Homo sapiens: one gene and its partners. The protein of the gene in region 1 purifies or fractionates together with the protein of each later gene. This does not show direct contact. Each region holds a gene or a part of one and is shown in the gene's direction. Other genes may lie near its edges. The genes, in order: WDR72, HERC4 and SPAG1.

What was found.
Region 2: the proteins of WDR72 (region 1) and HERC4 purify together in Homo sapiens (affinity purification with mass spectrometry; one large-scale study listed by BioGRID and IntAct). This does not show direct contact.
Region 3: the proteins of WDR72 (region 1) and SPAG1 purify together in Homo sapiens (affinity purification with mass spectrometry; one large-scale study listed by BioGRID and IntAct). This does not show direct contact.

The regions. Positions count from the first base shown.
Region 1 is NC_000015.10:53,753,090-53,756,815, reverse strand, and holds part of WDR72 (WD repeat-containing protein 72), read left to right. Parts: exon of another isoform or gene 1-149; intron 150-3,726. UniProt on the Homo sapiens protein: Plays a major role in formation of tooth enamel. Specifically required during the maturation phase of amelogenesis for normal formation of the enamel matrix and clearance of enamel proteins.
Region 2 is NC_000010.11:68,072,484-68,076,775, reverse strand, and holds the start of HERC4 (probable E3 ubiquitin-protein ligase HERC4), read left to right. Parts: upstream 1-1,492; 5' UTR 1,493-1,632; exon of another isoform or gene 1,633-3,089; 5' UTR 3,090-3,119; exon of another isoform or gene 3,120-3,589; 5' UTR 3,590-3,667; coding exon 3,668-3,893; intron 3,894-4,292. UniProt on the Homo sapiens protein: Probable E3 ubiquitin-protein ligase involved in either protein trafficking or in the distribution of cellular structures. Required for spermatozoon maturation and fertility, and for the removal of the cytoplasmic droplet of the spermatozoon.
Region 3 is NC_000008.11:100,164,986-100,168,711, forward strand, and holds part of SPAG1 (sperm-associated antigen 1), read left to right. Parts: intron 1-828; coding exon 829-988; intron 989-3,726. UniProt on the Homo sapiens protein: May play a role in the cytoplasmic assembly of the ciliary dynein arms. May play a role in fertilization. Binds GTP and has GTPase activity.

The DNA.
Region 1 (3,726 bases):
CTGACCTTCGGCAAGTTACTTATGTTCTCCAAGACTCATTTTCTTCATGTTTGGAATAGTGATAATAATGCATATTGATATTATGAGGACCGCATGAAGCAGTGAACGTAATCTAAGCAGCACAGTGTCTACAACTTAACATATAGTCAGTAAGTGGTAGCAATTGTTTACTTTGACACTGACTTTTCCTCTCTCTCTCTGTCTTTTTTTTTTAACAAGTTGAAATTCAACTGGGAGAAATGTAAAGCCCTACACAGTAAGTGTTTAAAACAATAAGCGAGTACAGGATGAGGGAGATGTAATTTACTGAACCAGTCAACCTTTTGGTTAATTGACATTTTGTTGCTTGTGAGTCGGCAGTGAGTTGTGAGGGCCCATGTATTAGTCCTTTCTCATACTGCTCTAAGGACACTGCTCTAAGACTGGGTAATTTATAAAGAAAAGAGGTTTAACTGACTCACATTTCCACGTGGCTGGGGAGGCCTCAGGAAACTTACAATCCTGGCGGAAGTCACCTCTTCATAGGGTTGCAGGAGAGAGAATGAGTGCGGAGCAAAGGGGGAAGCCCCTTATGAAACCATCAGATCTCGCGAGACCTTACTATCACGAGAACAGCATGGGGGAAACCATCCTCATGATTCAATTACCTCCCACTGGGTCCCTCCCACCACATGTGGGGATTATGGGAACTGCAAGATGAGATTTGGGTGGGGATGAAGCCAAACCATATTAGCCCAGAAAGCTGATATGATTTTTAGATTGCTTTAGTATAGATTAGAACACAGAGTCCTGTGAAATCCTTATTCTCCTTAGGGTATCAGTACTCCTACTTTCTTTGTTACCACTTTCTTATGTTAAGAGGAATAATGAATTTCAGAATGGGGGAGTGAGAAGGTGTGGTTGATAGAGACTACCTTTTCTATTAGAGACTGAGCTATGCCCCCCACTTTTTTAGACTGGATATGTAAATTACCAGCTGAATGTTTCAGTAATTGGACTTCCTTGGAGAAACTCTTCTTGATCTCCTCCCAGCAGGGTTAAGTGCAGCCTCTGCTGCGCTCTCTACCTGCTTTGTGGGAACCAGGCCTAGCCCTTCTCTTTCTGCGGTAATGGAGGCCCCATGATCTGTCAGCATCATGGGACAGGAAGTGGGGCCTTCATCTCATTCTCAAGAGGAGAACAGAGTCAAGAACACAGTAGGTGCTTTATAAATCTTTGTTAAATTAATTAACTGCCACTTCCCAAACCACTGTTAAAACAAATTGCTTTATTTTCTGTGATGCATTGCATAGTTTTCTTCTCTTTCTTAAATGTGCAAAACCCTGTGCTAATTCTATATGCCCGCTTTTGAGAATCTATATGCCTGCTTTTGAGAAATACAATGTATTTAGCTGTAATTATTATTTAAAATTGAAAATAAAAATAATTTGTAATAGCATCATTAATTTTTAGTTAAGGGAAATAATGAATGTGATGCCTAATAATCCGTTATGCCACATAGGAGCACAGATAATTATTTCTCCTCTTGTTGAGGAACTGGGATGTAAGCATTTAAAGTATCTTCTTTATATGCATTTTGATTTCCAATTGAACAAAAAAATATAAACAGGAAGGACTTCATTCTTTTTTCCAGTGAGATCACAGAGATAAACCAAGTTAGAGCAACTCTCTTGAATAGCTAATAGCTGTCGCCTGGGGAAGGAGAAAATTATTTTCTGCCTTCCATGTTGATGTATATAGAACATGTGTTCTGAGTAGCTCCTATTTTCACTGCCTCTTTTTCCAGTTGAGGTGCAACATAAACTATTTTAATTAACATTGTGTCACCAAAAGGGGTTGAAATAGCCAATTGAATTCTGCCAAGATAGAGTCTTTTGATGAAAACATATCTTTATTGATTGTGGATGAAGAAAATCATTCTTAAAATGAAATCCAGAGAAAAATCATATCCCTCAGAGAAAATTTCTGAGTGGCAGGCTGAGATTAACATCATAAAATTGAATTTGTGCTGCAAGCCTTTGATGTAATCAGCAGCTGGGAGATGGTGTTGCCCTTGCTGTGCTCTCTCTGATTGTGGTGAATTATTGTGTGGAATGAAATAAGTGTTTCTTGTGTCCCTCCTCCAAGAAATACAAACAAGGTATTACCAGGTAGTTTCTTGCTAGTTAAAATGGGTTGGATCGATTCCAGGCCTCTCAGGCTCTTATACACCCATGAACTATAGGTGTTGGATATTTATTTATGCCCTAGGGACAGAATTTCTTTATATCACTGGACAGTGACTTCTTTGGTCAGTAGAAATCAAGCAGAGAAGAGGGATCCCCTTTGCCACGGATTTTTTTTTCTTAGAATAAGCAGAGGCCAGGATGTTTTAGAAAGTGCCATAGTGCCACATATTGCCTGGTTTTTGTTGGCCTGTAGGTTCAGGCAAGCCCTTTCGTGTCTCCCTCTGCTACCTCTTATGTCATAAACTGCATTGCAGTCACCCCAATGTGGAAATCTCACATTGTGTATTATGAGTCTTTTTCCATGACACTAGTGTTACGATGAGCTTTTTAGTGTTTTTGTATTAAGTTCTGATGCTTTGAAAACATTCTGGCCCATGCATACACTTCCACATACATAATGAATAGGTTTTACAGATTAAGACTCTTAGACTAAACAGTCTTTAGTCTAAGAGTGATTTGGCATCTTAACCACCCCTGTAGTTGAATTTAAGTTGTGTTTGTTTTGTTTTGTTTTGTTTTGTTTCATTTTCTTTAAAGAAATAGGTGGACTGGCTTGTCTGTGTGGAACTGTAAACAGATGATGATGTCATCATTATGAATTCTCACTTTCAAGGCCTTTAAGAAGTGGTATGGGCTTTGAGGTCATACAAATCTAGGGATGTAATCCCTAGGGATGTAGTCGTAGCCAGGGGATTTAGATTTACCTAGCCTTCTTTTCCTAATAACAGTAATGGTAGATGTGTGGATTACTTGAGAAAATGCATAGGAAAGCCACCAGCACAAGGTCTGGAACACAGTTGGCATTCAGTAAACACTTGCTGAATTGAGTATACAACACTGTGCCTTAACACTGAGAAAAGAGGCAAGGATAGTGAAGACAGAAGGTGGGATGTGTTTAGGAATAAGGGAAAGTAGGAAGAGCCAGGACTAGAGAAAATTTTGAATAATCAAGTGGTGAGATAGGGACTATGAAACAGAGGTGGGGCTTATCTTGGCTCATGACAGAAAATCCACAAAGATGTTCACAAAAGCTACAAAGGCTATGGTTCCTTCAGATTATGAGCCTCAAATCCTGTACTTCCTCTACCACTTTTTCCAAACCACCTTGGGATTCTGCATTCATAGCCTTGCTGATGAAAGTCTGTTTTGGCCTAGCTTCTGCTAGAATCCTTTAGTGCAAAAGGTGAGTTTAAAGTCTTCCCTGGCAGGTATTCCTGATTGCTAGGACAGAGTCAGAAAACACTAGAATCGTGGGCATTAGGGAGGCTTCTCCAAATAGGCCTTGTCCATATAGGCCTGTATTTCTGCCTATGGGAGTACCTGCCATTTGCTTATTCTAGGAGGAAAAATGGATTGTTATAATTACAGTGGACTGACTTCCAATGTCAACTTGTGCTGAAACTGAAAGAAGGGAAGTAGATGTCAGGGCCAAGGAAGAAGATAACTAGTCCTTGGAAGAACACAGTATTTTTACACGAGAAGCCAAAGTGTAAGGGAT
Region 2 (4,292 bases), on another chromosome or scaffold:
GATCAGGGTAGGCTCTAATCCAATATCTGGTGTCCTTATAAAAGAGGGAAATTTGGACAGACACACAGGGAAAACAAGGTGAAGAGGGATGCTTCTACAAGGATTGCCAAGGATTGTTGGCAACCACCAGAAGCTAGCAGAGAAGCCTGGAAAAGATTATCTCTCAGAGACCCCAAGAGAGAACCAAGCTTACTTTCACCTTGATTTTGAACTGGTCTTCAGAACTGTGAGACAATAAATTTCTGTTGTTTTAAGCCACCGAATCTGTTTTAATTTATATGGCAAGCCTAGGACACGAATACACACACTTGAACATATTCTAGCACAGACAGTTCTTATCTAAAACATGTTTTTCAACAAGAGATAAAGAAACAGGCCAGGACCGGTGGCTCACGCCTGTAATTCCAGCACTTTGGGAGGCCGAGGCGGGTGGATCGCCTGAGGTAACGAGTTTGAGACCAGCCTGGCCAATATGGCGAAACCTTGTCTCTACTAAAAATGCAAAAATTAGCCGGGCATGGCGGCGCATGCCCGTTGTCCCAGCTACTCAGGAGGCTAAGGCGGAAGTTCCAGTGAACTGAGATCGCACCATTGCACTCCAGCCTTGGGGAACAGAGCGAGACTCTGTCTCAATAAATAAATAAATAAATAAATAAATAAAAATAAGAAAAGAAAAAGAAAGATGGCCTATTTGTGGAACTTCTTCTAGGTACTGAATATTCATTCTAGCAATACCCAACTTACAATTTCAAAAGTGCATTGTTTCAAGTTCTCCTGCTTTTTAAGAAGTTAAGGCTGGCCTAGGAGATCCAGACTTCGTTTTTATGAATCAGGGACTGCAGCCAATGTGTAATTTTCTCTGATAGAATGAGACCCTGCAATTCAAGCCTATCTTTCAGGGAGAGTGTAGAAAGTGATGGTAGCCAACACTGTACAAGGAAACTGAACTGGTGGTGGTGGTAGTAGAGTAGCTTCAGCCATTGCCATCAACACATCTCACATCCTCAGACTGGCTCCAGTTGAGGCCATGGGATAAAATAACTCTTCACCAGTCTTTATGTTCATAATTGTGATGTTTCATCTGCTACTTTAAAATCTCCTTGGGAAAAGAGAGAGTAAAATAATAAAAAGACTAGCTAGCATCCATGAGCACAAAGACAACCAAACCAAAAAACAAAGTGATTTTCTTCATTAAAAGGCTTTGTGCACGCCGAAGCATTCTCAAAAACAGTTGACATCTTCTTCGTTTGTCTTCGCAAACTCCAACTTTCTGTATTTGGCTTTTCCCTCTTAAAGCAACGCAAAGCGGCACACTGCGCAGGCGCCTGTGGCCAGCCACCCCCCCCCCCCCCCCCCCGGAAGATTCGGCGCAGGCGCCGGTGCCGGGGCCGGGAAGTGGGCGGGCTCGCGCGCGTGCTCTGCGGTTCACTTCCGGCCAGCCCCTCCCCCGCCTCCCTCGCGTGGCCACCTCCCCCTCTGCCTTCTCCTACCCAGTCTCTTCCCCAACTCTCCCCACCCCTGGTGCTCTCCGCCCCGCTTGCCTCCCGTTCTTCCCCGCCCGCTCCATCCGGGTCGCTGACGGCTGTCTCTGGACTGGACAGCAGTGGCGTCCGCTTTTCTCTAAGGAACCCGGTAAAGTTTCCCAGGGGCCGGGGAGGGGAGCAGCGGAGCAGCGGCACAGACGCCGGAGGTGCCCTGGTGATCGTCGCCACTGGCTGACAGAGGAGGGTCCCAGGAGCCGGAGACGTGCTTCAGCGACCGCGCTGCCTTGCTCTCTGGGCAGGGGCCGCCCCCCGTCACCTTGGGCTTCCCCTACCCTGAAGGGCTTGGGCGAGTTGTGGCCCCAGCGGGTTCGGGGGCGTGTGACGGCGTTAGGGAGGGGCAGGCCGGGCTGGGCGGATGCAGGCCGGCCCGGCATAGGGCGCTTTCTCCGCGCTTCCTGGGGGTGAGGGGCGTGGGGCGAGGGCAGGGCTGTGGCTCCCTGGCCCCGGGGCTGGAATGTCTCATCTGCCTGGGGATGGGCTTCTCTCAGGTTGAGGCCGCGCACTGCCAAGCCTCGGCCGCCGGCCTCTGAAGCTGTTGCGAGCGGCCGGTTGCGGTAGTCGTCTGCTTGGCTGCGAGGTTGGGTGTGTGCAGATGATTTCTCTTTCCCAGTCCCCATGAGCTGATCTGGGTGCACGTTCAGGGAAAGACGGGACTAAACTGCTTCTCATTTCCCTACCTGTTGCTGGCGAGAGGACGCCTCTGTGTTTTAAAGAAAAGGGTGGTTAAACCTCGCGCGCTGAAGTCGGGGTATTTTCCTGTATTACTCTTATTTTGTTTTTAAATATGGGAAGACAATGCAGAACTCTTGGGAATTATCGAGTTCTGATACCCCAAAAGAATGAAATCAAACTTCTGTTAATGGGATGATGGGTCGTGGAATGGGACACCTTGGGCACTTGCTAACAGGAACATAGGAAAATTGGAGTTGAAACTTCGCAGGCTCTGTAAGAATGTGGATGACTGCTACAGAATAAGGCTGACTTCCTGTAATTATGATATTTAGTAACGCGATGTGTTTAAAAGTCTACGTATGTATAGATGAAGTGGACTCTGTTATTTGTGTCTTTCTTTACAAGTGAGGAAATATTCAGTCAGTGTGCTGGAAAGTTCTACAGATTTCGCCATCAGACTATCCATTCCTATTCTTGAAAAATCTGCAGTGCTGGAGTTATTTGCAATTCCCCCCCGCCAATCTTTAAATAATTGTCTCAGAGATATAGATAGATATAGATTGCCCACGGGTGATTTTTTTAATCCCGGTTACCACTTGTAATAAAAGAGGTTGAATTTTGGAGAGAATTGATATTTAAATTGCATGTTTTTTTTTCTGTATTATAATTATGCACATTGATTTAGTTTTAAAATTAGTGAGGTTGGAATGTTAGTATTTTGATTTGAAATCTGGGATCTTTGGAGGTGATTTAAGATTATGGTTTGGTAAGAGAATCTTCATTTTCTCTCTGGGCTAAAGAGTAATTGGGAGAGTCGTTTAAATTGTGGAAAATTGCTTTAAATTTCCATTATTGGTTTTATTTCTGTTACAGATAAGAACTCCATTTTCTGTTGATGTGGAGGTAGGTATTAGAAAGCTTAATTATACTAGGATTGCAAGGTTATGTTTCTGCAGTTGGCTAAATTTTGCACTGTGTATATTTGCTTTTTGGGCAGAGGAAAGATGTCTTATTTCTTGTTCCCATTGAAATTATTTAAAGCAAAAAGTAGAAAAAATTGTGATTAATTTCATCAAGGTACTTATTCCTATTAGTTTAGTCTATCACAAGATAACCAGAAGTCAAAACTAGTTAATATGTTTTAAATTTTGCAAAGGATCATAGAAAGTGTCATATTTTCCCTAAAAATTTCTGTATGATACATTTTAAAAAATACAACTGATTGGTTTTTGAAACTGAATGATACTTATGTAGCATGTTATAAAGTATATTTAATGTTTACCATGTAGCAATTATTGTAGCCTAGCACTTGAAAGAGCAATTATACATCCTTTTTTCTTTGAAGTCATATTAACTTCTTTCTATTTCCTCAGACATAGGGTACCTCCAACTTTCCGGGGTTTCAGAAGAGAATTTTTTATTGAAACTGGAAGACCAAAATAATTACAAGCATGTTGTGCTGGGGAAATGCATCCTTTGGGCAGCTAGGTTTGGGTGGAATTGATGAAGAAATTGTACTAGAGCCCAGAAAAAGTGACTTCTTTATAAATAAAAGGGTCCGAGATGTAGGATGTGGACTCAGACATACTGTGTTTGTTCTGGATGATGGAACAGTGTACACATGTGGATGTAATGATCTAGGACAGCTAGGTCATGAAAAATCCAGAAAGAAACCAGGTAAGTTGAAATGTTTTTAAAATTTGCTATTTTTAATAATTATATCATTTTAAATTTGAATCATCGTATAATTTCTCTAGTTGTAACTATATGTTTATCAAGCTTTAAAAGCAAAGTAGAAGTTATGTATTTCCATTATATGTGTATATTTGTATGGTTCTAAGTACTTTATGTTGTGGTTTCTTTTTTTTTACTACTAGTATTATAAAACCTTATTTTGTATGACGATATAAAACAATAAAGAAAATCAGCCTGCAGTATATAAATCTTTGGTACAGAGTGTGTAGTGTGCAGGTCCTCTTTAATAAATTCTGTTCAGCCACCCTGGATAGATTTTAAATGCATAATTTACTCTGTGTTTACCTTACTTTGGGAGGGGGGAGGAAAACAAGACGGAAG
Region 3 (3,726 bases), on another chromosome or scaffold:
ATGAACTACCTGTTTGTGTGTGAGGTAGCAATCTTCTGTGACACTATTACCCTTAATTCATATGAATTCCCTCTTCACATGAAGAGTACAGACAACAAACAGGGACAGATGAGTCTCATTATTCATTGACTCTTGGTGTTTTCATAGTGTGTTAAATGCCTGATTTCAATTTTACAGCAACAAAAAATACCAATATTTATTCTGAAAGGTAATTGTATGTTCCAAGCAGCCGATATTAACAACTTCCATCACGACTCTAGGAATAATTCGCAGTTCTGAACCATGTTTTAGAAAAACATTTCCAGCAGGTCTGTGCAGGATTTTTTCCTATTCCATCATTGGTAATAATTGCACTTCTTGCAGCAGGAACTTGAAATTCTTCTGTTGCAAACTGTAAGACTGCTGTGAAAGGTGTACTTTCAGGAACAGAGTACTTTGTACGCCAGCCGCGGGTCAGACCTCAGAGTGATCTTAAAGGAAACCTTTGACATGGTGGCGCCGGGAGGAACCCAGAACCCACGCCAACTCCGCGGAGCAACCCCACTTCCTCCACGGTGCCGGGGACCACACCGCCCCACTCACCCTTATCCAGTTTTTAAAGTGTGTGATGAAAATTGGTTACTTTGGAGTTCCTTTTTTTCTTCTTTTAATCATTCCATAGATTAACGGGTAAAAATGGAGACTATGCGGGTTAAGGAAAGAGACTGGGAAGCAGCCCTTGAGATCTCCACAGAACCTCAGGGTTCCATGGAACCCAGCCTGCAAACCGCTGGTCTAGATGATCCTAAATAAGGTGCTAACTCTAAAACTTATTTATTTCTTTTTAAGATCTGGTGAGGAAGGATATTATCCTGAACTTACAGAATTTTGTGAAAAGCATCTTCAAGCCTTGGCCCCTGAAAGCAGAGCTTTGAGGAAAGATAAACCAGCAGCAACAGCAGCCAGTTTTACAGCTGAAGAATGGGAAAAAATTGATGGTGATATAAAGGTATATAGTAATACCAATTTTCCATAGATATTGTTGAGACATTCTATATATGTTTACTTCACTTATCGGAAATCCTAGGCTTCTTGTTTGTCCGTAAAGGGCTTTTAGTGTCAATTAGGCAGGATTGGTTGCTTTTTACACCCAGGGGAACATTGCGAATTCGCGTGTGTGTGCGTCCGTACATGTGTATATTTAAATTGATTAAATAATATTCTGTCCTATTAAAAAACCTATAATTTAATCATCTTCAATAAATAGTGCTGTATAAACATGTTTATTTGTAATTTTTTTTCTTTTTTTTTTGAGATGGAGTCTTGCTTTGTTGCCCAGGCTGGAGTGCAGTGGCACGATCTTGGCTCACTGCAACCTCTGCCTCCCAGGTTCAAGTGATTCTCCTGCCTCAGCCTCCCGAGCAGCTGGGATTACAGGTGCATGCCACCATGCCTGGCTAATTTTTGTATTTTTAGTAGAGATGGGGTTTCACCATATTGGCCAGACTTCTCGAACTCCTGACCTCAGGTGATCCACCCACCTCGGCCTCCCAAAGTGCTGGGATTACAGGTGTGAGCCACCATGCCTGGCCTATTTGTAATTTTTTTGCACCTCCCTGATTATTTCCTCAGGATAAATTATTATAATTCAAATTGCTTGGTCAGATGTGGTTGCTCACACCACCTGTAATCCCAGCACTTTGGGAGGCTGAGGCAGAAGGATCACTTCAGGCCAGGAGTTTGAGACCAGCCTGGGCAACATAGGTAGAGCTGTCTCTACAAAAATATAAAAATTAGCTGGACGTGGTGGCATGTGTCTGTAATCCCAGCCATTCAGGAGGCTGAGACAGGAGGATCGCTTTATCCTGAGAGACCGAGGCTGCCGTGAGCTGTGATGGTGTCATTGCACTCCGGCCTGGGTGACAGAGTGAGACCCTGTCTAAAAACAAAAAGCAAGAGAAAGAGAAAAAGAATTTAAATTGTTTGATCAAAGGATTTGAATATTTTTAAGCCTTTTCAAACATATGTTCTCAGAAAAGTTGTACCTTCATACACCACCCCCAACAGTGTATAAGAATGCCCAAGCCAGGTGCAGTGGTGTGTGCCTATAGTCCCAGTTACTCAGGGAGGATTGCTTGAACCCAAGAGTTCAAGGCCAGCCTAGACAATACAGAGAGACCTGGTTTCTTTATTAAAAAAAACAAAAACAAACAAACAAAATGCCCATTTTTAGGTACTCTTTGCTGGATACTGTAATCATTTTTAGTCAATTAAATAGTTGAAAAAATGGTAGTACCATAGTCCCTTCTTATCTTTGGGGCATACTTTCCAAGACCCCCAGTAGATGCCTAAAACTGCAAATAGTACTGAAGCCTAAATATACCATGCTTTTTCCTCTATATGCATATCTATGATAAAGTTTAACTTATAAATTAGGCACACTAAGAGATTAACAATAAAAAACAGAACAATTATAACAGCATACTGTTGTAAGAGTTATGTGAATATGAGCTCTCTTTCTCTCAAAATATCTTACTGTATTGTACTCACCTATTTTTGGATGGCAGTTGACTGTGGGTAACTGAAACCACAGAAAGCAAAATTACAGATAAGGGGAGGACTATTGTAGTATATTTTTTGATTGCTAGAAAAGTTGAGTTATTTTTCATGAATCTGTCACTTAAATTTCTTCTTAAATATTTACAGATTTCTTTTAATCAGCTTTATTGAGATAAAATTTACATTCCATATAAATTACCAACTTTATAGTGTACATTTCACTGAGTTTTGACAAACGTATATGATACAGAACATTTCCATCACCACTAAAAGTTTTCTCTTGCCCATTTGTGGTCAGTGTAGACCCCACTGCCTGGCCTTTGGCAACCACTGAACTGTCAGCATAGTTTTGCCTTTTCTAGACTTGCATATAAATGTAATCATACAGTATGTTGTCATTCCTGTGTGTCTTCTTTCACTTATATAATGCTTTTGAGATTCATCTGTGTTGTTGCATGTGTCCATAGTTTGCTCCTCTGAGTTGCTAAGTAGTATGAAATTGTATGAATATCCCACAGTTTGTTTACCCACTTACCTTTGATAAGACCCGCAGTGGATGCCTAAAACCTAGATAATACTGAGCCCTAAATATACTATGTTTTGACTGCCAAAATGTTTTCCAAAGTGGCTGTACCATTGTGCAATCCTGACAGCAATATATAAAATTTCCACCTGCTTTACATCCTGGTCAGCACATAGTATTGTCCGTTTTGTTAGTTTTAGCCATCCTACCAGGTATCTCATTGTGGTTTTAATTTGCGTATCTCTAGTGACTAATGATATTGAGTGTCTTTTCATGTAACTTCTATTGTGAGGTGTCTTTACATCCTTTGCCCGTTAAAAAAAAATTGCCTTGTGTTCTTATTGAGTTGCCAAATAATTGTTCTTTATCAGATACGTTGCTTTTTTGCCCAGGCTGGAGTGCAGTGGCACCATCACAGCTCGCTGCAGCCTTGACCTCCCAGACTCAAGCGATGCTCCCACTTCAGCCTTCAGAGTAGCTGGGACCACAGGTGTGTACCACCACACCTGGCTATTTTTTTTTTTTTAATTGTTTGTAGAGACAGGGCTTCACTATGTTGTCCAGGCTAGTCTTGAACTCCTGGGCTGCTTTGGCCCCTCAAAGTACTGGGATTACAGCATGAGCCACCATGCCCAGCCATCTTTTTTTTTTTGTTGTTGAGACAG